2 separate regions of the Homo sapiens genome follow, and region 2 is linked to region 1. Evidence: fine-mapped expression QTL. A gene starts in region 1. The other region holds a variant in brackets. All regions are shown on one strand. Distances are between the middles of the regions.

Region 1 (16,069 bases):
TCTCCCTTTCAATATCACTACCATTTTTTATAGTGTGTGGATCCTACCATAGTTTTTCTAAGCTTATATAAATACATGTATGCATAAACAGCTTTTTGTTTGCTTTTTTATAAAAATGGCGAGATGTTGACGTATTTTGTAAATTTCCCCCTATTTATTATATATTATAATCATCTTTCTTGGTCAATACATATCAACCAAAACCACTCTTCTAAGACTTGTCTTATATATTGCAATATGTTTGTAATTATATTTCATTCAATCATTCTCCTATTGACAATTAGTTTGCTCCTTATATTCCAGTTTCTTCCATATATATATTAATTAATTTATTAATTCATTTTTTTGAGATGGAGTCTTGCTCTGTCGTCCAGGCTGGAAAGCAGTGGCGTGATCTCAGCTCACTGCAGCCTCTGCTTACTGGGTTCAAGCAATTCTCCTGCCTCAGCCTCTTGAGTAGCTGGGATTACAGGTGCGTGCCACCACACCCGGCTAATTTTTGTATTTTTTAGTAGAGACGGGGTTTCACCATGTTGGCCAGGCTGGTCTCGAACTCCTGACCTCAGGTGATCCACCCACCTCGGCCTCCCAAAGTGCTGGGATTACAGGCATGAGCCACCGTGCCTGGCTATATTTCTTATTTAATATTTTTATTAAATATTTTTATATTAATAATTTTTTAAGCTACTGAATATTTATTTTATTTTATTTTTTAGGAGGACAGAGTCTTGATCTGTGGCCTAGGCTGCAGTGCAGTGGCACCATCTCCATCTCCTGGGTTCAAGCGATTCTTCTGCCTCAGCCTCTTGAGTAGCTGGGATTACAGGTGCGTGCCACCACACCCGGCTAATTTTTGTGTTTTCAGTAGAGACAGGGTTTTGCCATGGTGGCAAGGCTGGTCTCGAACTCCTGACCTCAAGTGATCTGCCCACCTCGGCCTCCCAAAGTGTTGGGATTACAGGCGTGAGCCACCACACCCAGCCTGTCATTTTTAAATTCATAGAAAAACCAGAAAGTTATCTTAATGTGAGAGTGGGTGGAAACTGCTTTAAATTGAGATCAATAGCCTTTTTGAATTGAGCGAGACTTTGAACCTTAACTAACACGTGGCTTCTGTAACTCAGTTTTTCCACCTCTAAAATAAAGAGCATTGCTCGGCACAGTCCCTTCCAGTTCTGGCTTTGCGAGTGTTATCAAATTATGTTCCAGTTGCAACAGGTGTGTTTTGGTGTAGCATATACACAGACGTCTGTGCCTGGGACTTCTGCTCCTGCCCAGAGACAGCAAGCACCTTTGCTAACCTGCCTTCCCTTCCCTGCTGTGCCGTAACAGCCCAATCAGATGTTCTCTTTTTAAAGGGCTGAGTTCCTCTTCTCCTTTGACCCAAACCACACCTATCCAATAAAGAAAATAAAGCAAACTATCCTGGCAACAAGTTTGTTTTTTGTTTTGCCCACTGCAAATTTGTCCCTTTTACTCATGTAGCTGCTTCCAGGACTACCAGATTTTATTTCAGATATTTTATTTATTTGCAATGTAAAACATTTTAAGTTCATTTAAAAATTTTCTGGAGTATTTAAAATATATAGAAAAGTAAAGAATAATATGACAAATACTTATTTGTGTAAAAAATATAGGAAATACTATGATGATATCTAGATTTAACAAAATTTTTTGCAGTATTTATTTTAGAATTTTCTTTGCAAAGAAAAAAATGTTACGGATATGTTTGAAACCCTATCCCTTCCATTGTCCACCATCTCTGCAGGTAGCCATTTTCTTGAGGTGGTTGTATATCCCTCCCACCCATATTTCTTTCTTTCTTATTTAGGAATGAGGTCTTACTCTGTCACCTAGGCTGGAGTGCAGTGGTGTGATGACGGCTCAGTGCGGCCTCAGACTCCTGGGCTCCAGCAATCCTCCTGCCTCAGCCTCACAAGGAGCTAGGATCACAGGGTGCCACTGCACCCAGCAAATTTTTAAATTTTTTTGTAGAGTCGTGGTCTTGCTGTGTTGCCCAGGCTGGTCTCAAACTCCTGGCTTTAAGCAATCCTCCCGCCTCAGCCTCCTAAAGTACTGGGACTACAGGTGTGAGCCACCATGCACAGCCCCCCTCACTCATATTTCTAAATGTTTGCTGCATATGTCCTCACCCACAAATGCACGTATAATTGTTTTTCAATGTTTTAGAATATTAAGGACATCCTGTACACTTGTTAACTTGCATTATATTTTTGAGAATCATTCATATTCACACATGTAGCTCTAGCACATTCATTTCAAAGTCTTCATAGGAGGGCATGAATATGCCACAATTTATTTCCCGATTGATCTACTTTATTGTGCTTCATATTTCACTCAATTACATATAATGCTACAATTGCCACCTTTGAATATATTTTTTAGTATCTAGGAAAAAAATGGAATAGCTGGTTCCCCTTTACTAGACATTGCTGAGTCGCCCTTCATTATGGGTCAACCATTTATTCAACATAACCTTTCTGAAAGCATGCACTGTGTACCAAATACGGCTGTAGGTGCTTGGAGTACAAAAGAAGCAAAGCAAACTCCTGGTATTCAAGAACTTACACTCCACAGAAAGGGAGATAGACCCTAACTAGAGGGTCTATATGAGGTGGTGGAGTAAAGCAGGCTATAGAATCTACAGGGTTTAGGGAATGATGGGTAGGACCAACTGTGGTCAAGGAAGTCCTTACTGATAAAGTGGCATTGCAATGTAGACTTTAAGGAAGTAGGGAAATGAACAGTGGCCATATCTGTAGACAGTCTCAGGCAGTTTGGGAGCATGGATGATGCATTCACAGAAAGGTAAGGTGGCCAGTGTGGCTGGAGCAGAGGGAGGATGGGGAAGAGTAGAAGAAAATGAGGCCATAGAGGTAGTGGAGGCTGAGAGATGGGCAGAGGGATTTTGGTTTATACTTTGAGTGAGACTGGCACCCTTATGGCTTTTGAGTATGATTCTAGTATCTGACTCTAGTCATATTGGAATTGGGTGAAGGTGGGAGGGGAGAGAAGGATGGAGGCTGGCATACCTGTTAGGATGCCATTGCAGTTATCCAGGTGAAAGATGATGATGCTTTTGACCACCATGGGAGTAGTGGGGGACATGAGAGGTGTTTGCTTATGGACATATTTCAAAGAAAAATCCAACAAAATTTGCCTATAGATTGAATGTAGAGTTTGAGCAAAAGAGAAATTAATCATTAATCACTCCAAGGATTTTAGTCTGCACTACTGGAAGAGTAGAAATATCATTTATTGATATGAGGAAGGATGCAAGAGGGGGCAGGTTTGGAGTTAGAGGTAGTAAAGATTCAGGCATTTGGCTTGCAACAGTAATGGTTTAGCAAGCATTTAGCAGGCTATTGAATGTGAGTCTGAAGTTCAGGGAAGTCTGGGACTTCATCCTGGTTTGAAGGACCAGGATGAGAGTGCATGGAGTTAGAGATGTGGTCCAAGACTAAGTCTTGGGTATTCCATGCCAGAGATATAAAGAGGACCCAGAAGGAGACTGGGAAGGAATGCCAATGAGTTAGCAGGAAATTCAGGGAAGGGAGAGTGGGGAGTGGGATATGGGGTCTAGGAAGTCAGGCAAGAAAACATTTCAGGATCTTTCAACTGTGTTAAACGCTGCTAATAGTTCAAAGAAGCTAAAAATTGAGAATTGACCGTGGATTTGGCAATGTGGTGATCATTGGTGACCTTGAAAAGAGCTATTTCTTCTGACCGGTGGGGAAGGAAACCTGACTGAAGTACATTTAAGAGAATGAGAGGAGAACAATTAGAGATAGTCAGTAAAAGCTCTTGCAAGGAGTTCTGGTATATAGAGGAGCAAGGAGGGGAAGGTTGTGGATTCAAAGGGAGTTTTTTTTTTTTTTTTTTTTTTTTAGATGGGAGAAATTATTGCTTTAAAATGTGATTGGGGGCCGGGTGTAGTGGTTCATGCCCGTAATCCTAGCACTTTGGGAGGCCAAGACGGGCGGATCATGAGGTCAGGAGATCGAGACCATCCTGGTTAACAGGGTGAAACCCTGTCTCTACTAAAAATACAAAAAATTAACTGGGCGTGGTGGCACGTGCCTGTAGTCCCAGCTACTCGGGAGGCTGAGGCAGGAGAATTGCTTGAACCTGGGAGGCGGAGGTTGCAGTGAGCTGAGATTGCACCACTGCACTCCAGCCTGGGTGACAGAGCAAAACTCCATCTCAAAAAAAAAAAAAAAAAAAAAAATGGTGATTGGGGCCAGGTGTGGTGGCACACGCCTGTAATCCCAGCACTTTGGGAGGCTGAGGCGGGCAGATCACTTGAGGCCAGGAATTCAAAACCAGCCTGGCCAACATGGCAAAACCCCGTCTGTACTAAAAATACAAAAATTAGCGGAGAGTGATGGCACACACCTGTAATCCAGGCTACTCAGAAGGCTGAGGCAAGAAAATCCCTTGAACCTGGGAGGTGAAGGTTGCAGTGAGCCAAAGATCATGCCACTGCACTCCAGCCAGGGTGATGGGAGTGAAACCTTATCTAAAATAAAAAAAAATGTGATTGGAATAATACATCAGAGCAGAAAAATGTTGATACAGTAGAGAGAAGATCATTGCAAGAGTGACTTCCTTGAGTAGATGAGCAGGAAGGGGACCCAGTGCTCAGTGGGAAGGGGCTGGCTCTTGGCACAGAGAGTTCATTCCGAAGGACAGCAAGAGTTCAGGTAGAACTCATGCAGGGGAGGCTTATAGAATTTCAGGGGAAGATGTGGAAATGCTCCTCTGGTAGCATCTATTTTCATTGTGAAAATGAAGCATCATCGCGTGAGAATGTTGGTTTTCAACAAGAATGTTTTAGCAACTATTTAGTAGGCTGTTGAATGTGAGAGTCTGGAGTTCAGGGAAGTCTGGCCTGGAGCTGGTAATTGAGGAGACATCAGCAAGCAGATAGTTTTGAAGCCACGGACCCAGATGACAATGCATGGATTTAGAAAAGAAGTGGTCCAAATCTGAGCCTTGGGTAATCCATGCCAGAGAGATAAAGAGGACCTAGACACGAGAAGGAGATTTTGGAAGTGAAAGAGACAAGAGGAGGTGTGAAAGAGGAGAACAGGAGAGTGAAGGGGCTAGGGAAGGGTAGTAAGGAGGGTAGGAGGATGGCTGCTCTCTTGAGGCTGGGATCTAGTCATACATTTCAAGTAAGCCAGTCAGCATGGGTGTGTATTTTCTCCAACTATATTCAGCCACTCAAGCTCAGTGTAGTCCAGTGGAGAGCTGGATTTAAACTGGGTTGAGGAAAGAGGAGTAAGTAGCTGCAGAAGAATAATGAAGAGGATGGAGCATGATCTTTCAGTCCAGTGCAGTGGGGCTGGGGAATCGTTGGCACTGGAGGAAGAGTTGGAGGTGAGAGAAGGAAAGTGGGATTCAGGCAACTGAGATTATGGAGGGGGTGCAGCCATTGCTAATAATGATATCTAGGATATAATAAGGGAATGCATGACTGAGGTAGGGTGCAGGACAAGATTATTAGAAGAGAGAATGTCCAAGAACTCAGAGGCCAGGTGAATGGAAGAGTCTCTATGTAGCTATGGAAATCACTAGAATTATGAAAGGGGTGGTATCGGATTGAAATAGTGAGTACTGCTAGAATACTTGATGAAGTGATGGGGCTCACTAGATGACTGCAATGAGAAGGGGTGGGTTTGGAGGAAGGAAAGTGATCTGGAAGTAGCAGTGAGAGTCAAGAACACCTGCACCACCTCCCAGGCTCTGGTGTGTGAAGGGTGCACCCAAGAAGATATAGACCACTAGAGGGCGCTGTGCTCAGGCCAGCGTGTAGGTCTCAGTCCCCTGATTTTCATGGGGTTACAATGAAATGGACTCACCTGAAGAGCTTTCAAAATAAAACGTATGCCCGGCCCCTCCCAGACCACTTACATCAGCATCTCTGGACATGTATGTGAGCTCCTGTTTCTTCATGTTCTGGCCACCATTTGTATTACTAGATGTTTTAAATTTTGTCCACCTTAGGGGTGTACAATAGTGTCTCCTGGTTGTGTTAATTTGTATTTTCCCATGTTCTAATGAGGATGCATACCTTTCCATGTGTTTGAGCTATTTCTGTTTCCTTTTCTGTTATCCATCTGTTGATCTCCTTTGCTCATTTCCCCGCATTGGGGTTGTTAGTCATTTTAAAATTGATTTGTAGGAAATCTTTATATATTTTGTATATTAACACTTTTGTGATTATACAAGTTGCAGATACCTTCTCCCAGTCTGCGGCTTGTCTTTTTTTTTTTTTTTTAATTCAGCAGAGAAGTTTAGGTTTACTATCAATACTTAATATATAAATTAGCATTTTTTTTTTTGAGACAGAGTCTCGCTCTGTTGCCCAGGCTTGAGTGCAGTGGCACGATCTCAGCTCACAGCAACCTCCGCCTCCTGGGTTCAAGTGATTCTCGTGCCTCAGGCTCCTGAGTAGCTGGGACTACAGGCGCCAGCCACCACATCCAGCTAATTTTTGTATTTTTAGTAGAGACAGGGTTTCACCATGTTGCCCAGGCTGGTTTTGAACTCCTGACCTCAGGTGATCTGCCTGCCTCAGCCTCCCAAAGTGCTGAGATTACAAGTGTGAGCCACTGCGCCCAGCCAAAATTATCAATCTTATCTCTGTCGTATGTGTATCTTATGATATTGATAATTGTCACAAAACTTACTTTAAAGCTGTTGGTAGACACTAATATTTATTTATTTATTTATTTATTATCTGGAGAAAGACAACATTTTTTAACAAGTAAAAGTCATCAAAATAATGTTTTGCCTGTGTCTGTATTGGGACAGTGTATTGGGTGGCCTCAGATTATGTTTATAATACTTAACCCAGTGTGACACTATTTTTTAAAAATTAAGACATATATACATATCTATATATAGTGAAGAATTCAAATAGGACAAAAAGCATAAAATGGTGAAGAGGCCGGGCGGGGTGGCTCAATCCTGTAATTCCAGCACTTTGGGAGGCTGAGGTGGGCGGATTGTTTGAGCCCAGGAATTCCAGACCAGCCTGAGCGACATGGCAAAACCCTGTCTCTGCAAAAAAATATAAAAATTAGCCATGCATGGTGGTGGATGCCTGTGGTCTCAGATCCTTGGGAGGCTGAGGTGGGAGAATCGCCTGAGTGGGGAAAGTCAAGGCTGCAGTGAGCTGTGATCACGCCACTGCACTCCACCCTGGGCAACAGAGCGAGACCCTGTCTCAAAAAAAAAAAAAAAAAGGCCAATAATCTATTTCTCTTAGTTCTTCTGCTCAAAGGTGAACATTTCTTATGTATCTTTTGAGAAAAAAAGATTCATATGCCTCTATCAACATATGTATGTAGACCCTTGTATTAAGTTTCCTGTGGCTACCATGACAAATCACCACAGACTGTGTGGCTTAAAACAACAAAAATTCATTCTCTCAGAGTTCTGGAGGCTAGAAGTTCAAAATCAAGCTGTTCATAGGGTGATGCTCTCTCCAGCCTCTGGTGGCTCCAGACATCCCTTGCATTGTGACTGCAATACCCCAGTCTCTGCCTCTGTTTGCAAATGCTCTGCTTCTCTGTATCTCTCTTCTCTGTGTGTCTTATGAGGACACAGGGTGTCTTCTAAGGCAGCATAGTATGATGCTTAAGTGCATAGGCACTGGGGCCAAACTGCCTGGGTTCGAATCCCACCCCCACCACTGACCAGCAGTGCAAGCTGGAACGATTACCCAGCTGCGCTAAGTGGAGATGACGTGACAGTACTTATCTCACAGCACCTTAATGAGTTAATACTTGGAAAGTAGTCACAGCAATGCCTGGCAAGAAGATAACCTGTGTAAATGGCTAGATTTTATACAATTGATGTCATACTCTTCTTACAGTTCTGCACCTTAATTTTCTTTCTTTCTTTTCTTTCTTTCTTTCTCTCTTTCTTTCTTTCTTTCTTTCTTTCTTTCTTTCTTTCTTTCTTTCTTTCTTTCTTCCTCTCTCTCTCTCTCTCCCTCTCTCTCTCTCTCTCTCTCCCTCTCTCTCTCTCTCCCTCTCTCTCTCTCTCTCCCTCTCTCTCTCTCTCTTTCTTTCTTTCTTTTTTCTTTTGAGCCAGAGTCTCACTCTGTTGCCCAGGCTGAAGTGCAGTGGCACAATCTCAGCTCTCTGCTACCTCTGCCTCCTGGGTTCCAATGATTCTCCTGCTTCAGCCTCCCGAGTAGCTGGGAGTACAGTTGCCTGCCACCATACCCAGCTAATGTTTGTATTTTTAGTAGAGACAGGGTTTCGCCATGTTAGCCAAGCCGGTCTCGAACTCCTGACCTCTGGTGATCTACCCACCTCGGCCTCCCGAAGTGCTGGGATTACAGGCATGAGACATCGTGCCCAGCCTGCACCTTGATTTTCTTCACTTCATAGTATATCCTGAAATCTTTACCCCTCAGCATACAAAAAAACTATATGATTTGCACCAAACTCCTTACTATTATGACTTCTCTTCTGTGTCAGTCACTATTCCAGCCACTTTAAATTCATTATCTTTCCTAAAAGTACTCCCATTTTGTGGATGAATAAATGGAGGTTAAGGGACTTGTCCCAAGCCTCACAGTAAGTGGCCAAGTGGAGGTTCGGCCCAGTACTGTCTGTTTCTTTGTTTGCTTAACTGTCATTGCCATCTTCGCTATTACTTGATTTTTGTGTTTTTGTCATCCCCTTACAGACGTTTCTGAGTTATGACAGCCTCGACAAGAATAGTCTCCTTGTTTCTGAACATTGGTGTTGTGATGCAATCTCCTAATGAGACATGTCAATGTGCCCAGATCTGCAGTGATAGTTGTCTGTTTTCTTAAGACTTTAGTCCACGGTTACTTGAAATTCCCTCAGAGCCACAGCCAGCCCTTTCCCTTGGCTTGTTTCACAAATCTGGTTTTCCAGGGTCACAGATACCTGCTGCTTTCTGGCTGTCTCCTTTTGCCAGTGGAGCAGAGATCCATCCACTCCTTACTGAGCCTCCCCAGGCCTGAGGAGACTTCCTGTTATGTTTGATGAGTAAGGATGAATCACAAGAAGCCAGCCTTTCTCTTCCTCCTGAAAGCAGAAGTGATTCTTACGGAGATGTCCAACTTTGTCATTAGCCAAATTGTAAGGTCTTAACTTGTTGTTGTTTTTTTTTTAATAAAGATGAGATTGTGCCAGACAGTGAGATAAATTATAGAATGATTGTTTCACTCATGCCTTCTGTCCTTTGCAGAACTCAGTTAAGCAAGAAGTCTGGGGAAAAGGGTTTACTGTCCACCAGAAGTCTCTGTTTAACCAGAGACTTCTGGTAATCAGCCTTTGTTGATGTCATTCTGAAATTCTTCTAAATGGTCTTTAGAAAATTGATTTTTAAATTAGTCTTGCAGGATTTCAGTGTTATTTATTATTCCTAAATTAAAATCTAAACCATTTAATAACACCAAATGTTGATCAGAATGTGGGTATGATTGCTCGTACATATGGCTAAATATGTAGTCATAAATATGTATCAACCAGTAAACTTTCCTTAGAAGTTGATTTTTAAAAAAAAACCCAAATTGTGGAACTATACTTATTTTATTTTAAACTATCTCATCCAGCTAAAATAATGCTCAAAATTGCTTGATAAGGGAAACTGCAATTATTCTTGAAATGTTAAATATGGTGATAATAGAAAACAGGCTGTTTAAAATAACTTTCCACTCAGGTGACAAATGTAATAACCAGGCTGCAAACTCTTACAGAGAAATATTACCTTAGAAAAATATTTTTCTTCACATTGAATTGTTTGTAAGTTGCTTCCTCACACGAATTAGAAAATTGGATTACTGGTTTTGTCTGTAGCCCAGAAAAAACTGCTAACTCACCTCCGGACCTTTGAAAGGTAAAAATATACGTAGGAGTAATTCCAGTGTGGGCCAACAGATGGCACCAATCTGTTTCTAAGGTACCGCTTTACTCAACTTTAAGAACTTGTGTTTGTCAAGCATTTTCAATTGTATTTCCGTTCATTTACAAGTTATTTTCTCTTCTTCTGAAAAAGAGATCTTGGTAAGTAGAAAGACTTCTGTGGCTTTTTCACATTATGGCACAGGTGCTTCAAGTAAGCAAGTTTGCTAACCATTCATTATATAGGAAATAGGTAATGTTTCCTTGAAATTTTTGCAAAATGATTTGAAGTGGTTTTTTTTGTAGATGTTGCAAATGTCCTTTGAATTTCACGAGCAGGATGAAGAGCAGCGTCTTTACAGCTGTCTTGAAAAGATAGAAAACAACTAGCGCTTGTGGTGATAATTAAGGAACAAAACTAATGTTATTTATTTCTTCTGATTTGGCCCAGCGAATTTTCTCTTTTCGTCTTTCTCTAGTTTATTGTTTTCAGTAACATTTAACAGTAATTTTTATATACCACTGATATGGCACCTATTTATTATATGTTTTTACAGCAGACGTGTGTTTGATCTCCCTTGTCGTTTGTCACTGTAACAGTTTGCTGGTCTGTGTCTGTCCCTAATTCATAAGCTTTTTGAAAGCAGGAATTATGTCAGTCCTATTCATATTTATATCCCTGGTGCCTAGTGCGTAGCATGGCACTGGCAGAAAAATAGACTCTGAATAAACATTTATTAAATGGAGGAAGTGGCCGGGACCAAGCCCCTTCACAAGCTTGAATCTGGCACAGTGTAGCAATTGCCTTCCTCCAGGTCCTTCCACCTTCAGTTTGACAAATGAAACAATGTTTTTCTTGCCTATTTGTTAACTTGATTATGTGATCTTTCCTCCACTTATTTCACTTAATTTTTTTTCTGCTCTCTTCTTCCTTGTAGTTTTAATTTTCATAGGTCTTGTCTACCCTTTTTTTCTGAAATGTAGCTTATTTCATCTATTTCCTCACCCTTTTTATTTGATGCATTTAAAAAATCAAGAGCATTTACCTGTTTATTTTTACTTTCTTTAAAAAACTGTGAACTCTCTAATCTTCCACTCTCATCTTCCCATTTTTCCCTCCTTTTTTCCCAATAAATAGAAAAGTTACTATCTTGTTCATTTAGTGTATTCCCTAGGAACTGCCTCAGGGTATGAACGCCTCTGGAGGAATATTGCGTTTTTGTGGCAGGATACCATAAGGACAGCTGACCAGCTTTTCCACCTGGTGACTGATTTTCAGTCCCATGAACCCAGACACCGTGGGTCTGGTTGCCGGGGACCTGTAGGGTAGGTCCTCATCTGTGAATGCCAGTTATCTACTATTATCTGAAAGTTCTCCATCTTTATATTTTAATATTCCAAATAAAACAAGCACGTTTCTTTAAATATAAAATATTTTCACACAGCTATAAAGACAACTCTTAAATTGCCTTACGATAACTTTTTTGGATTATAAAGGACATTCAAAATGAGACATTTTAGGGATATCTGAAAGTATAAGAAAGAAAATTAAATTCATCTATAATTCAGAGATTCAGAGAACCACTATTATTAGTATTTGGTATATTTCATCACATTGTTTGTCCTCTAGCTTTTACGTATATGTCAGGTTTTAATCATATTTTGCAAAATTAGAGTCTTACTACATATATAATTTTTTTTTTTTTTTTTTGAGACGGAGTCTTGCTCTGTCGCCCAGGCTGGAGTGCAGCGGCACGATCTCGGCTCACTGCAAGCTCCGCCTCCCGGGTTCACGCCATTCTCCTGCCTCAGCCTCCCGAGTAGCTGGGACTACAGGCGCCCGCCACCACGCCCGGCTAATTTTTTTGTATTTTTTTTTAGTAGAGACGGGGTTTCACCGTTAGCCAGGATGGTCTCGATCTCCTGACCTCGTGATCCACCCGCCTTGGCCTCCCAAAGTGCTGGGATGAGAGGCGTGAGCCACTGCGCCCGGCCATAATTTTCTATTACTGTATTCATTTAACATTATCATTTTTTCAAAGTACAGTATTTGAGGCTATTATTTAATTATACATAACTGATTTAATCATTTTCTACACTAGACATTCTGATTTTTTCAATATTTCATTATGTCATGAGTATCCTTATAGTCATATCTTCTGTGTGTTATTTTTGACTATTTCTTTAGAAAATTCCTTGTAGTGGAATTGCTAAAATAAAGGAAGGTATATTTTTAAGAAATTTATGTAAATTACCAAATTACCCTTTAGAAAGCTTGTACTAATTTTTCATTCCTGCCTAAGTAGTAAATGAGGGTTCTTATTTTAGTTTCCACCTACCAACCTGGATATTATATTTTTTAATTTTCCCTATTTGATAGGTGAAAAAAAAATCTTGCCTTTTAAAAAATCTTTTAAGAAACAAGAGTCCTCCTTTGACCCCCTTCCTCTTTTTATGCTTAAATATCTTATAGTAAAAATAACAGGCATTCTGGAAACCTATTTCTAAAAGCTTTATTCTCTATCTCTAAAAAAATTACATTTTCCTAAAATAGCCAAATAACATTATAAAAAATTACAATTTATTTCTTAATAGCATCTAATGGCTGGTCCATCATAGAATCTGCCCCTCCTTCTGTTACTGAATATGTTTTATAGCAAGTCTGTCTTAACTGAGATCTAATCCAAGATCATGAGTTTCATCTAGATGTTATGTGCTTTTTTGATTTAACGTGCTGTTTTATTTTTTGTGAGATTGCACATTATTCATATTATTGGCAATTGATTTTTGGCAAATTATTCAGTAAATAGTACAGTAAACTTAATTTTGAATGTTAAAAGTTTGAAAAATATAGATAAAAACTAAGAGGAAAATAAAGTTCCATTATAATCTTACTGTGCAAAGATAATTACTGTTCATATCTTGGTATGTATCTTATTAATTTTTCTACTTGCATAGGTACATATTTACTTTGGTACTTTTTAAATAAACTGCTTTTTGTCACATATAGTGAAAATATTTTCATGCAATTCGATTTTTATTATTTTTAAAGGCTACATAGTACTATTTAATTATACAGAGATACTAAAATTTATTTGATAACCTGCTATTTTTGGATAATTGAGGGATTTGTTTTCAAAATAGAATTTATTTTTGCCAGGAGCAGTGGCTTGTACCTGTAACCCCAGCTCCGTGGGAGGCTGAGGTGAGAGGATGGCATGAGCCCAGGACCTTAAGCTATGATTGTGCCACTGCACTCCAGCCTGGGCAGTGGGACAAAACCCTGTCTCTTAAAAAGAAAGTGTTTAAGAAAATAGTAATGATAATAATTTATTTTGTGACGGCCACTTTATTGTAGTCTTTTATTGGTGCTAACATTTTTTCAATGACTTCTCTTTGGCTTTCCACATTGACAGTCTTATAATCTAAAAATAATAATGATTTTCTTTCTTCATTTCAGTATTTCTTCCTGTCATTTTTTTTCTTTATTACAGTGGTTAAAACTTCCGGAAAGAACAATGTGTGCATTCTTTTTTTTTTATTATTATACTTTAAGTTCTAGGGTACATGTGCACAACATGCAGGTTTGTTATATATGTATACATGTGCCATGTTGGTGTGCTGCACCCATTAACTCGTCATTTACATTACGTATATCTCCTAATGCTTTCCCTCCCCCCTCCCCCCACCCCACGACAGGCCCCAGTGTGTTATGTTCCCTTTCCTGTGTCCAAGAGTTCTCATTGTTCATTTCCCACCTATGAGTGAGAACATGCGGTGTTTGGTTTTTTGTCCTTGCGATAGTTTACGAGAATGATGGTTTCCAGCTTCATCCATGTCCCTACAAAGGACATGAACTCATCCTTTTTTATGGCTGCATAGTATTCCATGGTGTATATGTGCCACATTTTCTTAATCCAGTCTATCATTGATGGACATTTGGGTTGGTTCCAAGTCTTTGCTATTGTGAATAGTGCCACAATAAACATGTGTGTGCATGTATCTTTATAGCAGCATGATTTATAATCCTTTGGGTATATACCCAGTAATGGGATAGCTGGGTCAAATCGTATTTCTAGTTCTAGATCCCTGAGGAATCACCACACTGTCTTCCACAATGGTTGAACTAGTTTACAGTCCCACCAACAGTGTAAAAGTGTTCCTATTTCTCCACGTCCTCTCCAGCACCTGTTGTTTCCTGACTTTTTAATGATCGCCATTCTAACTGGTGTGAGACGGTATCTCATTGTGGTTTTGATTTGCATTTCTCTGATGGCCAGTGATGATGAGCATTTTTTCATGTGTCTTTTGGCTGCATAAATGTCTTCTTTTGAGAAGTGTCTGTTCATATCCTTCGCCCACTTTTTGATGGGGTTGTTTATTTTTTTCTTGTAAATTTGTTTGAGTTCATTGTAGATTCTGGATATTAGCCCTTTGTTGGATGAGTAGATTGCAAAAATTTTCTCCCATTCTGTAGGTTGCCTATTCATTCTGATGGTAGTTTCTTTTGCTGTGCAGAAGCTCTTTAGTTTAATTAGATCCCATTTGTCAATTTTGTCTTTTGTTGCCATTGCTTTTGGTGTTTTAGACTTGAAGTCCTTGCCCATGCCTATGTCCTGAATGGTATTGCCTAGGTTTTCTTCTAGAGTTTTTATGGTTTTAAGTCTAACATTTAAGTCTTTAATCCATCTTGAATTAATGTTTGTATAAGGTGTAAGGAAGGGATCCAGTTTCAGCTTTCTCCATATGGCTAGCCAGTTTTCCCAGCACCATTTATTAAATAGGGAATCCTTTCCCTATTTCTTGTTTTTGTCAGGCTTGTCAAAGATCAGATGGTTGTAGATGTGTGGTATTACTTCTGAGAGCTCTGTTCTGTTCCATTGATCTATATCTCTGTTTTGGTACCAGTACCATGCTGTTTTGGTTACTGTAGCCTTGTAGTATAGTTTGAAATTAGGTAGCATGATGCCTCCAGCTTTGTTCTTTTGGCTTAGGATTGACTTGGCAATATGGGCTCTTTTTTGACCCCATATGAACTTTAAAGTAGTTTTTTCCAGTTCTGTGAAGAAAGTCATTGGTAGCTTGATGGGGATGGCATTGAATCTATAAATTACTTTGGGCAGTATGGCCATTTTCATGATATTGATTCTTCCTATCCATGAGCATGGAATGTTTGTTTGTGTCCTCTTTTATTTCATTGAGCAGTGGTTTGTAGTTCTCCTTGAAGAGGTCCTTCACATCCCTTGTAAGTTGGATTCCTAGGTATTTTATTCTCTTTGAAGCAATTGTGAATGGGAGTCCACTCATGATTTGGCTCTCTGTTTGTCTGTTATTGATGTATAAGAATGCTTGTGATTTTTGTACATTGATTTTGTATCCTGAGACTTTGCTGAAGTTGCTTATCAGCTTAAGGAGATTTTGGGCTGAGACGATGGGGTTTTCTAAATATACTATCATGTCATCTGCAAAGAGGGACAATTTGACTTCCTCTTTTCCTAATTGAATACCCTTTATTTCTTTCTTTTGCCTGATTGCCCTGGCCAGAACTTCCAACACTATGTTGAATATGAATAGGAGTGGTGAGAGGGGGCATCTCTGTCATGTGCCAGTTTTCAAAGGGAATGCTTCCAGTTTTTGCCCATTCAGTATGCTATTGGCTGTGGGTTTGTCATAAATAGCTCTTATTATTTTGAGATACGTCCCATCAATACCTAATTTATTGAGAATTTTTAGCATGAAGAGCTGTTGAATTTTGTCAAAGGCCTTTTCTGCATCTATTGAGATAATCATGTGGTTTTTGTCTTTGGTTCTGTTTATATGCTGGATTACATTTATTGATTTGCGTATGTTGAAACAGCCTTGCATCCCAGGGATGAAGCCCACTTGATCATGGTGGATAAGCTTTTTGATGTGCTGCTGGATTCAGTTTGCCAGTATTTTATTGAGGATTTTTGTATTAATGTTCATCAGGGATATTGGTCTAAAATTCTCTTTTTTTGTTGTGTCTCTGCCAGGCTTTGGTATCAGGATGATGCTGGCCTCATAAAATGAGTTAAGGAGGATTCCCTCTTTTTCTATTGATTGGAATAGTTTCAGAAGGAATGGTACCAGCTCCTAGTTGTACCTCTGGTAGAATTCAGCTGTGAATCCGT
Region 2 (16,069 bases), 32 kb after region 1:
TGCTGAAAAATCTGTTAGTCTGATGGGGAGTCTCTTCTATATGACTTGACTTTTTTTATTTCTTGCTGTTTTTAGGATTCTGTCTTAGTCTTCAACTTTTGAGAGTTTGACTGTGATCTTCCTCAGAGAGAACATTTTTGAATTAAATCTACTTGGGAATTTTTAAGCTTCTTGTATCTGGATGTCTATACCTCTTGTAAGACCTGGAAAGTTTTTAGCTATTATTTCATTAAACATGTTTTCTATCCCTTTGCTCATCTCTTCTGCTTCTGGAACTCCCAAAATGTGAATTTTGTTTGCTTAATGGTGTTCCATAGGCTTTCTTTATTCTTTTTTATTCCTTTTTTTTTTTTTTCGCCTCACTGGGTTATTTCAAAAGACCTGTCTTCCAGTTCAGAAATTCTTTATTTTGCTCAATCTAGTCTACTGTTTTTTAATTTTTAATTTTATATATATATTTTTTTTTTGAGCTGGAGTTTTGCTCTTGTCACCCAGGCTGGAGCATAGTGGTGCAATCTCAGCTCGCTGCAACCTCTGCCTCCTGGGTTCAAGCAATTCTCATGCCTCAGCCTCGCAAGTAGCTGGGATTACAGGTGCCTGCCACCACGCCCAACTAATTTTTGTAATTTTTTTTTTTTTTTAGTACAGATATGGTTTCACCATTTTGGCCAGGCTGGTCTCGAACTCCTGACCTCAGGAGATCCACCCACCTCAGCCTCCCAAAGTGCTGGGATTACAGTTGTGAGCCACTGCACCTGGCCTAGTCTATTGTTTGTACAAGCTCTTGATTATATTTTTTTACTTCATTTATTGACCTCTGTAGTTCCAAAATTTCTGTTTTGTTCTATTTTTAATATCTATTTCTTTGTTGAATTTCTGACTCAGATCATAAATTATTTTTCTGATTTCTTTTATTATTTATCTATGCTCTCTTGTAACTCACTGAGTTTCTTTAGTATCATTATTTTGAATTACTTTTCAGGCATTTTATAGATTTTCTTTTTGTTGAGATCTGTTATTAGAGAATTATTGTGTTCCTTTGGAGGCTTCATGTTTCCTTGCACTTTTGTATTTCTTGTGTCCTTATGTTGATATCTATGGATCTGATGTAATAGCTGCTGCTTCCAATTTTATGGATTGGCTTTGATAGGGAAAGACTTTTGCCTCTAGGTGTTTTTATAGTGTTAGTTGAGTATAGGGTGCTTTGGCTTTGATTCTGAGTGGGCACAGCAGTGTAGTTTCTGTATGATTTCTTCACCTGTCATCAGTGTCAGTGGCATTTGGGTTCCTCAGTGGCTTAGGTTACAGTTGTCAGCAGACACTATGGCAAGGCTTTGCTGGGGATGGGGACACCAGGCAGGCCTGTTCTCAGGCAACAGTGGTGGCAGCAGTGGCCTAGGCTTGCCGGTTCTCAGGCCCCTGTGTGAAATATGTGGGCACTCGTGGTGATGGGTCCTTGAGCCTCCAGGAGATTTAGTTGGATGCTTGCAGTGGCAGTAATGGACCAAGTGGGAGGGCAGGTTCTTGGGCCCCTGCACAATTTGTGTGGCATTAACTGTAGCAGTAGGAAAAGTGGACCAACCCTCTGGCCCCCAAGTGGTAGACACAGGCAGCAGCAGGCTGGGCAAGCCAGTCCTCAGGACCCCGTGTGGCATGCATGTGCCACACCCTGTGTGGCACTGCCCTGCCATGGCAGTGGCAGGCAGGCACTAGCAGCAAAGGGCATGGTGGACCTGTCCTCAGGCCCCTTGGAGGCATGTGTAGATGTGTCGTAGTCCTGCTGCTAGGGAAGATGGGGTTGCTGTAAGTGGCGGTGGCCCTGGGCAGGTAACTCTGAGGCTCTGGGGAATGCACACTTTGACTCCCTTTGTCCCAGGGAAAGCCACTAGGTGCACTGTGCTTCCTGTTTCCTGGGATGCGGGGCATTGCATGGGCTAGAGTGCTGGGGACCTAGCTGCACTGCTGATCTTAGCTGGCATTACAATGCTGTAGCCCTCTAGGTGGACGTAGGAGAATATCAGTGGGGCTTCAGGGGTGTGGAGATTCAGGGTTGTTGGGCCCCAGAACAGGATGTGTATGGTGAGGGCTGGGCTCTTAAAAGAGCCTTATGCTGAAGCTGTTTGGGTCTCAGGGTATGGGGTATGTGGGACCCAATGTGAAGTCCCATTGTGGAACAATGTGATTGCATATATTCCAGACAGCCCCAGGGCATGTGAAGGCCAAGGAGCTAGCTCATGGCTAGGATTACAGGAGTCCATAGTGGAAACATTGACCTCTGAAGATCTCTCAGTTAAACTTTCCCTGGAATGGGAAGTTCCTCCTGGTTCTGAGCTAGTCCCAGCTGGGCTGGCTGCTTCACTTCCCTCTTCTCCCATGCCTCAGAGGTGCACTGTCACTTCTCCGCTGAATTCCAGTGTTCTCTCTTAGATGCTCATTCAATGTGTGATTATCTGCTCACTGTTTTGGTCCTTCTTTGCAGAGGGGGTGAGGGCTAGGTGCCTCTATTCAGCCATTTTAATGCTTCTCCGGCTCATTTTTTAATTGTTCAATAGTATTTTATTGTGTGAATGTACCAGTTTGTTAATATTTTTATCTATTGAGGGATATCTTGTTGCTTCCAATGTTTGACAGTTATGAATAAAGCTTCTATAAACATCCACATGGAGGCTTTTATGTGGACATAAATTTTCAGTTCTTTTGGTTAAATACCCAGGAATGTGATTTGCTGGATTGTGTGATAAGACTATGCTTAGTTTTATAAGAAACTGCATTCCATAGTGGCTGCACCATTTTGCATTCCCACAAACAGTGAAAGAGAGTTCTTGTTGCTCCACATCCTCACCAACATTTGATGTTGTTTTTGGATTTTACCCATTCTCATAAGTGTAATGTAATTTCATTGCTGTATTAATCTGCAAAACCATGATGAAATATGATGTCAAATAGCTATGTATATGTGTATTTGCTCTTTACATATCTTCTTTGGTGAGGTGTCTGTTTAGATTTTTGTGCCCATTTAAAAACTAGGTTGTTTGTTTTCTTATTGTGGAGCTTAAGAGTTCTTTGCATAGTTTGGATACAAGTCCCTATCATATATGGGTTTTGCAAATATCTTCTCTGAGTCTGTGGTTTGTCTTTTTCACTCTCTTGCAGTGTCTTTTGCAAAGCAAAAATTTTAATTTTAATGAAGTCCAACTTAACAGTGTTTTCTTTCTTGGATTATGTTTTTGATGCGTATCTCAAAAGTCATCACCAAATCCAAAGTCACCTAGATTTTCTCCTATGTTATCTTCTGGAAATTTTATAGTTTTGCATTATACATTTAGGTCTATGGTTAATTTTGAGCTGATTTTTGTGAAAACTGTAAGGTCTGCGTCTAAATTCTTTCTCTTCTTCTTCTTTTTTTTTTTTTGCATGTGGAGGTCTAATTGTTCCAGCACCATTTGTTGAAAAGACTATCCATTCTCCACTGAGTTGCCTTTGCTCGTTTGTCAAACAGCAGTTGATTATTTTTTTGTGGGTCTATTTCTAAGCTCTGTATTCTGGTCATTTGACCTATTTGTCTATTCTTTCACCAAAACCACACTGCCTTGATTGCTGTAGCTTTGTAGCAAGTCTCAATGTTAGGTGGTGTCAGTTATCTGGCTTTGTTCTTTTAATTTCTTTTTTTTTTTTTTCCTGTGAATGAACAATACTTTCTGTTTCTTTGCATGGCTAATTTTTTTAAACAAATAAATTAGAGATTCCTTTAATGCCAAGTTACACAATCAAAAAGATAACAATCTCTTTCCATTTGCTTTTTGCAAGGTTTGTGTTATTTCAGGGCAAAACGTAGAGCAAGTCCACTGGCAAATCTGGGGGCTAGTGATTATTTTGTTTTGATTTTTATTTTTTTAAATCAGACATTTTAAACACTACAATGAGGTAACTCTAGAAATCAAATTCTGTCCCCCTTTCCCAGAGGTGTTTTATTTATTTATTTATTTATTTTTTGACAGGGTCTCATTCTGTCACCCAGGCTGGAGTGCAGTGGTGTAATCACAGCTCATTGGAGCCTCGACTTCCTCGGCCCCAAACAATCCTCCCACTCAGCCTCCCAAGTAGCTGGGACTATAGGCACACGCCACCATGCCCAGCTAAGTTTTGTATTTTTTGTAGAGATGGAGTTTCACTATGTTGCGCAGGCTGGCTTTGAACTCCTGGACTCAAGCAATCCACCTGCCTTGCCCTCCCCAAGTTCTGGGACTATAGGCTTAAGCCACTGTGCCGGGCCTCCCTTTCCCAGGGTGTATTGTTGCTTCTTGTGGCTTATAGTTGCTTGTTTAATGACTTTTCTAAATAATTTTTATAAAGATTATTCTTTGTCATGTGTGGCTATTACATTTTCTGTCCAGTTAGCTTAGTGGTCAGCCAGTAACTTGAGATTTCTTTAAACATCTGGAGCAAAAACAAAAACCAAATAAACTAGCAAAAGCAAAAACAAAAACACCCCTGATCTTTGCAGGTTGGCTGTGTTGGATCACTTTCTCAATGCTTAGCCAGTCTATTCACAGCTCTGCTTTAGCCTTCACTTTCTGCATGCATGGAAGCTAAAGATGAGCCAGAGGTGAAGTTTAGGATTTTCTCAGGTCTCCTCTGAACATGCGTCCAGCCTTGGGCACGTGAGTGGACTTCTGGACTCCCTGGTATATACAGAGATTTCCTCAGCCTTTTTTCTCCCACATATCTTTCTCCATATATCTTTGCATATTTCCCAGACTTTTTGATGTGTCTGCTGCTTGCCCCCTCTGTTAGCCCTTGCTCAGGTGGCTGCAGCTAGTATGTTTGCCTTTAATTGTTTACAGCAAACACCAGCCAGAAGGCTGTTCCAGCCCTGAGAAAGTTCTAAGGTGTACAAAACAAAGGCAAGCCCCTGAGTGTGAATCCCTCAGGCAGCAACCAGACAGGTCAAAACACACAACCACAATTCTTTGATAACAAGGCCTATATTGCCCCTTCTGGCATGAGCAAGCTATATAACTGGTTATAAAAAGTATTACATTAAATTATGGGGACAGAAATGACTCTACTAGTGAATGAAGAAATCATTTAGATTTTATGGTTAGTAAGTGGAGGTTTGAGAGTAACCATCCGATCTTTATTAATCTTAGTGTATATTATATTTCTAGAATTTGGACTCATATCAAGATGCTCTGAAGAAGAACAACCCTTTAGGATAGCCACTGCAACATCATGACCAAAGACAAAGAACCTATTGTTAAAAGCTTCCATTTTGTTTGCCTTATGATCATAATAGTTGGAACCAGAATCCAGTTCTCCGACGGAAATGAATTTGCAGTAGACAAGTCAAAAAGAGGTCTTATTCATGTTCCAAAAGACCTACCGCTGAAAACCAAAGTCTTAGATATGTCTCAGAACTACATCGCTGAGCTTCAGGTCTCTGACATGAGCTTTCTATCAGAGTTGACAGTTTTGAGACTTTCCCATAACAGAATCCAGCTACTTGATTTAAGTGTTTTCAAGTTCAACCAGGATTTAGAATATTTGGATTTATCTCATAATCAGTTGCAAAAGATATCCTGCCATCCTATTGTGAGTTTCAGGCATTTAGATCTCTCATTCAATGATTTCAAGGCCCTGCCCATCTGTAAGGAATTTGGCAACTTATCACAACTGAATTTCTTGGGATTGAGTGCTATGAAGCTGCAAAAATTAGATTTGCTGCCAATTGCTCACTTGCATCTAAGTTATATCCTTCTGGATTTAAGAAATTATTATATAAAAGAAAATGAGACAGAAAGTCTACAAATTCTGAATGCAAAAACCCTTCACCTTGTTTTTCACCCAACTAGTTTATTCGCTATCCAAGTGAACATATCAGTTAATACTTTAGGGTGCTTACAACTGACTAATATTAAATTGAATGATGACAACTGTCAAGTTTTCATTAAATTTTTATCAGAACTCACCAGAGGTTCAACCTTACTGAATTTTACCCTCAACCACATAGAAACGACTTGGAAATGCCTGGTCAGAGTCTTTCAATTTCTTTGGCCCAAACCTGTGGAATATCTCAATATTTACAATTTAACAATAATTGAAAGCATTCGTGAAGAAGATTTTACTTATTCTAAAACGACATTGAAAGCATTGACAATAGAACATATCACGAACCAAGTTTTTCTGTTTTCACAGACAGCTTTGTACACCGTGTTTTCTGAGATGAACATTATGATGTTAACCATTTCAGATACACCTTTTATACACATGCTGTGTCCTCATGCACCAAGCACATTCAAGTTTTTGAACTTTACCCAGAACGTTTTCACAGATAGTATTTTTGAAAAATGTTCCACGTTAGTTAAATTGGAGACACTTATCTTACAAAAGAATGGATTAAAAGACCTTTTCAAAGTAGGTCTCATGACGAAGGATATGCCTTCTTTGGAAATACTGGATGTTAGCTGGAATTCTTTGGAATCTGGTAGACATAAAGAAAACTGCACTTGGGTTGAGAGTATAGTGGTGTTAAATTTGTCTTCAAATATGCTTACTGACTCTGTTTTCAGATGTTTACCTCCCAGGATCAAGGTACTTGATCTTCACAGCAATAAAATAAAGAGCGTTCCTAAACAAGTCGTAAAACTGGAAGCTTTGCAAGAACTCAATGTTGCTTTCAATTCTTTAACTGACCTTCCTGGATGTGGCAGCTTTAGCAGCCTTTCTGTATTGATCATTGATCACAATTCAGTTTCCCACCCATCGGCTGATTTCTTCCAGAGCTGCCAGAAGATGAGGTCAATAAAAGCAGGGGACAATCCATTCCAATGTACCTGTGAGCTAAGAGAATTTGTCAAAAATATAGACCAAGTATCAAGTGAAGTGTTAGAGGGCTGGCCTGATTCTTATAAGTGTGACTACCCAGAAAGTTATAGAGGAAGCCCACTAAAGGACTTTCACATGTCTGAATTATCCTGCAACATAACTCTGCTGATCGTCACCATCGGTGCCACCATGCTGGTGTTGGCTGTGACTGTGACCTCCCTCTGCATCTACTTGGATCTGCCCTGGTATCTCAGGATGGTGTGCCAGTGGACCCAGACTCGGCGCAGGGCCAGGAACATACCCTTAGAAGAACTCCAAAGAAACCTCCAGTTTCATGCTTTTATTTCATATAGTGAACATGATTCTGCCTGGGTGAAAAGTGAATTGGTACCTTACCTAGAAAAAGAAGATATACAGATTTGTCTTCATGAGAGAAACTTTGTCCCTGGCAAGAGCATTGTGGAAAATATCATCAACTGCATTGAGAAGAGTTACAAGTCCATCTTTGTTTTGTCTCCCAACTTTGTCCAGAGTGAGTGGTGCCATTACGAACTCTATTTTGCCCATCACAATCTCTTTCATGAAGGATCTAATAACTTAATCCTCATCTTACTGGAACCCATTCCACAGAACAGCATTCCCAACAAGTACCACAAGCTGAAGGCTCTCATGACGCAGCGGACTTATTTGCAGTGGCCCAAGGAGAAAAGCAAACGTGGGCTCTTTTGGGCTAACATTAGAGCCGCTTTTAATATGAAATTAACACTAGTCACTGAAAACAATGATGTGAAATCTTAAAAAAATTTAGGAAATTCAACTTAAGAAACCATTATTTACTTGGATGATGGTGAATAGTACAGTCGTAAGTAACTGTCTGGAGGTGCCTCCATTATCCTCATGCCTTCAGGAAAGACTTAACAAAAACAATGTTTCATCTGGGGAACTGAGCTAGGCGGTGAGGTTAGCCTGCCAGTTAGAGACAGCCCAGTCTCTTCTGGTTTAATCATTATGTTTCAAATTGAAACAGTCTCTTTTGAGTAAATGCTCAGTTTTTCAGCTCCTCTCCACTCTGCTTTCCCAAATGGATTCTGTTGTGAGCAAGAGTTTATATGGCTTCATGGCAGCAAGGGAACAGTCAACTTCAGCATCATATGCACCAGTCCTCGGAGTGCCCTGTGAATCATATTGGTCTTTGGGTCAGTGTCATCATTCTCTTCAAGTCTGGGGCTTGGGGAAAAAATTAGATCAGCTACGGCATATAAAAAAGTCTTTTGTTTCACATATGTGTAATAGCTTATTTAATTTTTTATCCTGCTACACAAATATGTAATTAACCAATGAGGACTCATGACTTGATAGTGTATGTATGTAAAGGGATATATGGACTTAATCATAAGCTGTTGAGGTGAAAGACGTGGATCCACCTGCTTTCCAAGAAAACTCGGCCAAATTTATTTGCAGCTGGATATTGAATGGGACTTTTCTGGTTGTCTTAGAATTCTGGCTAAAGGCTCAAAGCTGACGAAAGACAGTAACTGCACCAACATGATACTAGACACAGCCAGTCTGGACTTATCAAAAGAGCAGAAAGAGACCAATGACTCCCAGTCCGTATTATCCATCTCTAGAAGACTAGAGTCAAAAGCGTGATTAAAGAGTCATTAAGCGGAGGTTCTAGGCCATAGGGAGATTGCTTTGAATTTCTTGCAGACAAGTGTGAGGGACTCAGCATGGTAGAAGGTAGCCTGGCATCCCACTCCAAGACTGAAAGCTTGCAGAGTAACAGGAGCACACAGGTTCAGTGCAGCAGATGTGGTGTGGCTTGAGAATTCTTGGAAGAGCTTGATGAGTGTTTGCTGGAGTCCGAGGGTGGGCACTGGGAACACAGAGACTGGTAAATAGTGTTTGGCAAATACAAGTGCTTGATGAATATTTGTTGAATGAATAGATGAGTTCTTCCCCCCTGGGGAATTCAGGAGGTGAAAGGTTGGCTTGAGCACCCAAAATGGCAGGATGAGAGAAGAGAAGCACTGATAGCAACCTGCCCTCCCATTATTGACATGGTAAAAGGATGTGAATTTCTTCACATGGCTTTGACTATGGAAGAGTAGCTGGGCTTGCATTGTCATGACGGGATATCAGCCAACAGGGTAGCCTGTTGTGCAAAGAAACTATAGCAGTAAGAGGACACGGGGTTAGGCAGAAGAGGGGTTTGGGGTGGAGGTTGCTGCAAGAGGTCAGCCAGATAATGTGGCCCTGCATCATGGAACTGTGCAATGTGGGGTACACTCAAGGCCCTCCAATAACTCACAGATGTGCCCTATGAAAAAGCCAGCATTTGGACTCTGCCATAGCAGCTGGCAGGATCATGCTGGCCTGTCTGCCTTATTCAATAGTTAACTACAGGAAGATCTGCTCCTCTTTGTGTAATACCCTCTTCCCTTGCAATGGCATAGGGACATCTAGAATATAGAGAAGACAGAGACAATGGAGGAAGAGTAAAGAAACTGACTATATGCCTTC[G/T]TCATTTCACTGCAAGGAAGGCCAAGCAGATTTTTGAATGAGGTGTGAGATTGCTGTTAAATTGGACTGGCCTGGACATTTTAATCCCTTAAATAGAGGTGCAATGACTAAAGTGAGATTTGTCACTAAAATTTATGGTATCTGCCCAAGATTCAGGAGTGATGATGGGAGGAGATCCAACAGAACTTTGTTGTAAGGCAATGGTTAGAGAAAAATGAAGCCCTCGCTTTCTGGACTTAGTTCATTCAATAAACCAGTTTCGGCCAGGCACGTTGGCTCACATCTATAATCCCAGTACTGTGGGAGGCTGAGGCAGGTGGATCACTTGAGGTCAGGAGTTCGAGACCAGCCTGGCCAACATGGTGAAACCCTGTCTGTACTAAAAATACAAAAATTAGCCGGGTGTGGTGGTGTGCACCTGTAGTCCCAGCTACTCGGGAGGCTGAGGCAGGAAAATCACTTGAACCTGGGAGACAGAGGCTGTAGTGAGCTGAGACAGCGCTACTGTACTCCCCGCTGGGCAACAGAGTGAGACTCCATCTCAAAAAAGTTAAAAGAAAAAAAATCTGGTTTCATAATAGCTGTAACGAAATAAGCCTTAATGATATTTTATTAGCATCATCTTCTGTCTGCATTAGCCCTTCCTTGCTCTTCAGGAGAACAACATTTGTTTTCCTCCCTAGGCTCTATCCCAAACGGCACATTCTTCCACAACCCCTGTTGAACAGATTTTTTAAACTGTTGCCTAATCTAAAAACAATAAAAACAACAAACAACCACAGTAACAACAACGACAAAAAAAACTGCCACAGATTCTAAATAATCAGATCTTTTTAAATGGTATCAATGTTTCCCACAAAATATTGTTGACATTGAAAATATAGAATTTTAGCATTAATTTTGTTAAACCTACATCCCCTCGGCAGAGGGGCCTCCCTGCATCCCAGTGGAAAGTAGGTTCCTCACAGTCCTCTCCGTCACATTCTTCCCATTTCTTTTCTTCACAGAACACATCACTGTCTAAAATTATCTTGTTTGCTTAGTTGCTTACTCATCTTCTTCTTCTCTCCTCTGAAGTCTAAGCTCCAGGAAAAAGGGAGACTTCTCCACCTGTTCCCTGCCTCTCCCCAGTGCCGAGGGGACACTGTGCACCCCATTGTAGATGCGCAGTAAAAACTCGTGGGATGAGCAAATGACTCTGAAACGGTCCCATGCGGGAAATGTCCATGAAGTCCTGGATTTTATCTAAAAAGCCCAGGCAGGGGGGGGCGGGGGCGGCGGGGCTACAGTTCCACGCTGAGCTGCCTCCTGGCCGCTCGTCCCCGCCGCAGTGCCTGGGCGGCCCGGGCGCCCGACCTTGGCCGTGGACACCTTCGCGGTGGGTGCTGCTCCTCCCCATCTGCCACTGGAAGATGCTGGGGCGACCCGGCTCCAGGTTTAGCAGGACACTGAGAAAAGGGAATGGCTGCCTTTCGGAGGCTGGGTGAGCCCTTCTCTGTGCCTCACCTGCCCGCCCCACAGCGGCCCTGCACCTCGTCCCACGGGGCCCATTGCCCCGGTAGGATGCGCGCTTTTGTTTTGAGGGTCAGGCATCTTCCCTGCCGTCGTTTCTGGGAGGTTGAAAAATTGATCCAGAAAGACCTAAAACAAAAAACAAAGAAAAACAAAAAAGCGAAAAGGAGGCAAAACAAAACAAAAATCCATACAAATAAAGTATCTCCTCCATCCATGTTTGCACTATTCCTTCTCATTCCCCCGTCCAATGCCACAATTTGGTAAGTTTGCCTCAACACGTTTTCAGTTCTTAACACTGTGATAAGAATAAACAATAGATCCCGTAGTAAGATGACCTGTTAAAAGGAATGGGGCATGGCAGAGATGAGTTTGGATGAGGAAAGGTGTCAGTCCGTTTGGGCTGCTCTAACTAAGTTCTGAGATGTGTGTTAGGTAATTTTGACTTTGGTTGAACATCATAGAGTGCACTCACACAGACATAGATGACATAGCTTACTACACACCTAGGCTTATGGTATAGCCTGTTGCTTCTAGGTGATTGTAACACAATGCTTAGTATTTGTGTATCCAAACATATCTAAACATAGCAAGGGTATGGTAAAAATATGGTAAAGAAGATAAAAAATGGTACACCTGTATAGGGCACTGATGTGGGTTGGCTGTGTCCCCACCCAAATCTCATCTTGAATTCCCACGTGTTGTGGGAGGGACCCAGTGGGAGGTGATTGCATCATGGGGGCGGGTCTTTTCCTGTGCTGTTCTCCTGTTAGCGAATGGGTCTCATGAAATCTGATGGTTCTTTAAGGGGGAGTTTCCCTGCACAAGTTCTCTCTCTTCCCTGCTGACATGTAAGATGTGACTTGCTCCTCCTTGCCTTCTGCCATGATTGTGAGGCTTCCCCAGCTCTGTGGAACTGTAGGTCCAATAAACCTCTTTCTTTTGTGAATTGCACAGTCTCAGATACGTCTTTATCAGCAGCATGAAAATGAACGAATACAGGCACTTACCATAAATGGAGCTTGCAGGATTGGAAGTTGCTCTGGGTGAGTCAGTGAGTGAGTGAGGGGTGAGTGAATGTGAAGGCCTAGGACATTACCATATCCTACTGTGGACTTTACCATGTCCCACTGTGGACTTTATAAGTCCCATTGTACATATAGGCCACACAAAAATTATTAAATTTGTTTTCTTTCTTTAGTAAGAAAAATTATTAAAATTGTTTTCTTTCTTTAGTAAGAAGTCAACCTTAGCTTATTGTAATGTTTTTACTTTATCAACTTTTTGCCTTAAATTTTTTTTTGGCTCTTTAGCAATAACACTTAGCTTAAAACACACATTCTACAGCTATATAAAAATATTTTCCTTCTTTACATCTTTATTTTGTTTTTTCTATTTTTAAAATATTTTATTTTTATTTTTCACTTTTTAAACTTTTCTGTTAAAAACTGAGACACACACACAGACACACACACACTAGCCTAGGCCTACTCATAGGGTCATTATCAATATCACTGTCTTCTACTTCTACCTCTTGTTCCATTGGAAGGTCTTTAGGGGCAATAACATGCATGAAGCCATCATCTCCTGTAACAACAATGCCTTCTTCTGGAAAACCTCCTGAAGGACCTGCTTGAGGATTTTTATAGTTAGCTTTTAAAAAAATAAGTAGGAGCACACTCTAAAATAATGATTAAAATTATAGTCTACTAGATACAGAAACCGGTAACATAGTTGCTTATTATCATTATCAAGTATTATGAACTGTACATAATTGTATGTGCTGTGCTTTTATATGACTGTCAGTGTCGTATGTTTGTTTACAGCAGCATCACCACAAACATGTGAGTAATACATTGCACTGCAATGTTACTAGGCCATAGGAATTTTTCATCTCCATTATTATCTTATAGGGCCATGACTGTTGAGTGAAATATTGTTATGCACTGCATGACTGTACCACAAATTGAGTAGCTTATAAACAATGGAAATTTATGGCTTATAGTTCTGGAGGCTGTAATGTCCAGGGTCAGGCTGCTGACAGATTTGGTGCCTGGCGAGGGCCCACTTTCTGGTTCATAGATGGCTTGTCTTTTCACTGTATCCTCACCTGGGGGAGGGCACTAATGCCATTCATGAAGGCTCCACATTCATGACCTAATTGTCTCCCAACATCTCCAACTCTTAATACAGCTCTTTCTCCGTATCCACAGGGGATTGGTTCCAGGAGCCCTGTAGATTCCAAAGTCTGTGAATGCTCAAGTCCCTTATGTAAAATGGCATACTTCCAACCTGAGCATCATAGTGAGACCCCACCTCCTCAAAAAAAATACATGCCTGGCGGCACATGCCTGTAGTCCCAACTACTCAGGAGGCTGAGGTGGGAGGATTGTTTGAGCCCAGGAATTCCAGGCTGCAGTGAGCTATGATCATGCCGTTGCACTATAGCCTGGGCAACAGAGCAAGACACTGACTCTGAAAAAAAAAGTGTACTATTTACATATAACCTATGTACATCCTCTCATATACTTAAATCATCTCTAGATTTCTTACAATACCTAATACAATGTAAATGTTATGTAAATGTTATGTAGTTGTTAAACTGTATGGTCTTTTATTTTTATTATTTTGTATTATTATATTGTTATTATTTATTTATTCATTTATTGAATATTTTCAATCCATGGTTGTTTGAATCTATGGATGTGGAACCCATGGATATGAAGGGCTGATTGTATTATCCCCTTGGGGGTTAGGATTTCACCATAGGAATTTTGAGGGGCACACAAACATCCAGACCATAGCAAAAGAGATAAGAAACCTAGGTTAGTGACCAGGGAGGGCTGCTAGGATGAGCCTTGATGAAAGATCTTTCATCAGGAGGATCCTGGGCATGTGGCTGGGAAGGGTCCTGGGCATGTGGCTGGGAAGACCCTTCAAAGGGGAGGGCACAGTGGGTGCAAAGTTGGAAGTGAAAGAATACCATGAGCGAAGAAAGCATCAAATTGGCAGTGTTGCTGGATGTGTTAGTTTCCTGTGGCTACCAAAACAAATTACCACAAACTGGGTGGCTTAAAACAACAGAAATATATTTCTCCCAGTTCAGGAAGGCAGAAGTCAGAAATCAAGGTTGGCAGGGTTGTTCCTTCCAGAGGCTGTCAGGGAGAAATCATCCCTTTCCTCTCTCCTAGCTTCTGGTAGTTGCTGGCAAACCTTGGCGTCCCTTGGTTTGCAGATGCATCAGCTGCTTCTTAGAATGCCCTGGAGGACATGCCCCAGTAGTTAGCAGCTTTCTATAGAATGTGGTACATAATACTTCTTTGTCTTTAGTTTTGGACCCAAGTCATAAGAAAAGTTCCAGTCAACACCCTATTACGTAATCAGTAGAACCAACAGATGAGAAGAGAAACCAAAATTATTGGTAGGCTATTGACATACATGGCAGATGCGCAATCTAAAAAAATGTATCCCAAATTTGGGTTAAATAATCAATAATCTGTGCCTGTGTCTTCACATGGTGTTCTCCTCCAAGTCTCTGTCTTTTTTTTCCTGTCTCTTACAAGGACACTCTAGTTGGATTTAGGAGCCTCCTTAATCTGATGCCATCACATCTTGGTCCTTAACTTAATTAGATCTACAAAGACTCTTTTTTCAATGAGGTCACATTCTGAGATTTCAGAATAAATCTGAAATAAATGGACATAAATGTTTGGAGGTTGGGTGGAGGACACTATTCAACCCAGTCCTCTGGAGTTGGCATGACCAGCTCTGATGCCCTGGAGACTCAGTTGAGTGTGGCAGCAGAAAAGAAATGTTATCCTGGAAAGAGTGAAGACTCTAAAAGAAGCTGCTTGGAAAGTCAGAGGTACAAAGAAAGGAGTAATAGGCAAAGAGAATAGAGTGGATGGGTGTAAGAGCACAGGAAAGAGACAGTGGATGGAGACCCGGGATATAAACGGTGAGAGTGTGGGAGTTTTAAAGAGAATGAGACCACAAATATGGGGAAAGGAGGAGGTATTTCTGTCTAGGTTTCTGGGGACTGGTTTGATTAGAAAGGAATGAGACTAAACTACAGGGAGTAAAAGACCTGAGGGGATTTCTAAAACCACAGGGACTTTCTGAGAGTTTCAATTACGGTTAGTTTATGAGGAATCTCAACATCATCTAGTCCAAATGTGAAGTAGTGTTTATTTTTCTCAGTCATTCCATCAACTGGATTCTGAAATTCCCCTCTTGTCACTCCTTAGTGATATCTTGAGCAGATTTAATACTTCTGCAGTCCTTTTGAGATACTGATACTCCAATCTAGTTTAAAATTCTAAATCTCCATCTTCATCTAAAACTCATCTTCTTTCTGCATGTCACAGGCTAGGTCTGTAGCTCAACCTTGGCATATATTTTGGAGGTAGGCATGGTTTATCTGAGATACACTCTTCTTGCCCCTCCCTCTCCCAGATCTAGCTCCCTGAAGTGGAGATCAAGGATGAGTGGTAAGAAGGCAGATATCCTTTTCTATAATTGTGTCGATTAAGGTACAGTCTAAGCTGCAGGACTGGGAGACCTCAAATACAGAGGCTTAAATAAGATTGAGGTTTATTTCTTTCTCATATAATAGAAAAAAGTATAGCTAAGAGGTCTAGAATAGGTAAGCTGTCTCTATTCCACAAAATCATTCAAGGGCTCAGGATGACCAGATGTCTCTGTTTCCTATAGCTCTGGTCTTATCCTATGGCCTCCATTCTCCCTTGCATGGAGCCACAGGAGCTGATGAAGCCCTCCTGTGCCTTTTTGTGTGTGTGTGGCCCATGGGATGCTGAGGTGGAGATACACCCCCTTTCCCAGGTACCTGATACCACAGTCTCTAATTGCCAGTTGGCAAGGGTTGGTCCAATGGAAATCTCCAACAGAGTAGACACCAGTCGCTCTACTAATTTACACTCCTGAACCCCCAGGGGGCACGTGTAATGTTCTCTAATACTGCTCAGATGGGCAGGGGGATCAACCTCAGAGGGTGATCCTACACATTGCTGCATCAAAACAAGAATCCTCTTGAGGAAAGAAATGCCTGATCTGCCTGTCCCGTGTCTAAGAGTAATTTTACTGTTATTTCCCCTTCACTTGGCTTGAGAAAGAGATGTCATCTCTTGCATAGGGAGAAGAGCTTGCAGGCTTACATCATTAACACTCATCTCCTGGTGCTGCTGACTCT

The links.
Region 2: its variant is fine-mapped to the expression of TLR6 in whole blood (TOPMed, PIP 0.96).

Annotation. Positions count from the first base shown.
Region 1 is chr4:38,850,771-38,866,839 of GRCh38, reverse strand. TLR6 (toll like receptor 6) reads left to right here and starts at 10,023. Exons shown (of 2, transcript NM_006068.5): 1 at 10,023-10,079. RefSeq lists an enhancer at 8,375-9,574.
Region 2 is chr4:38,818,637-38,834,705 of GRCh38, reverse strand. TLR6 (toll like receptor 6) reads left to right here. Exons shown (of 2, transcript NM_006068.5): 2 at 5,169-11,809. The coding sequence starts at 5,233. The coding sequence ends at 7,623. Among named protein-coding and RNA genes, the nearest start is that of TLR1, 22 kb to the right of the region's middle. RefSeq lists enhancers at 3,070-3,239, 10,800-10,969, 14,974-15,093. The variant G/T (reference allele first, on the strand shown) is at 9,349.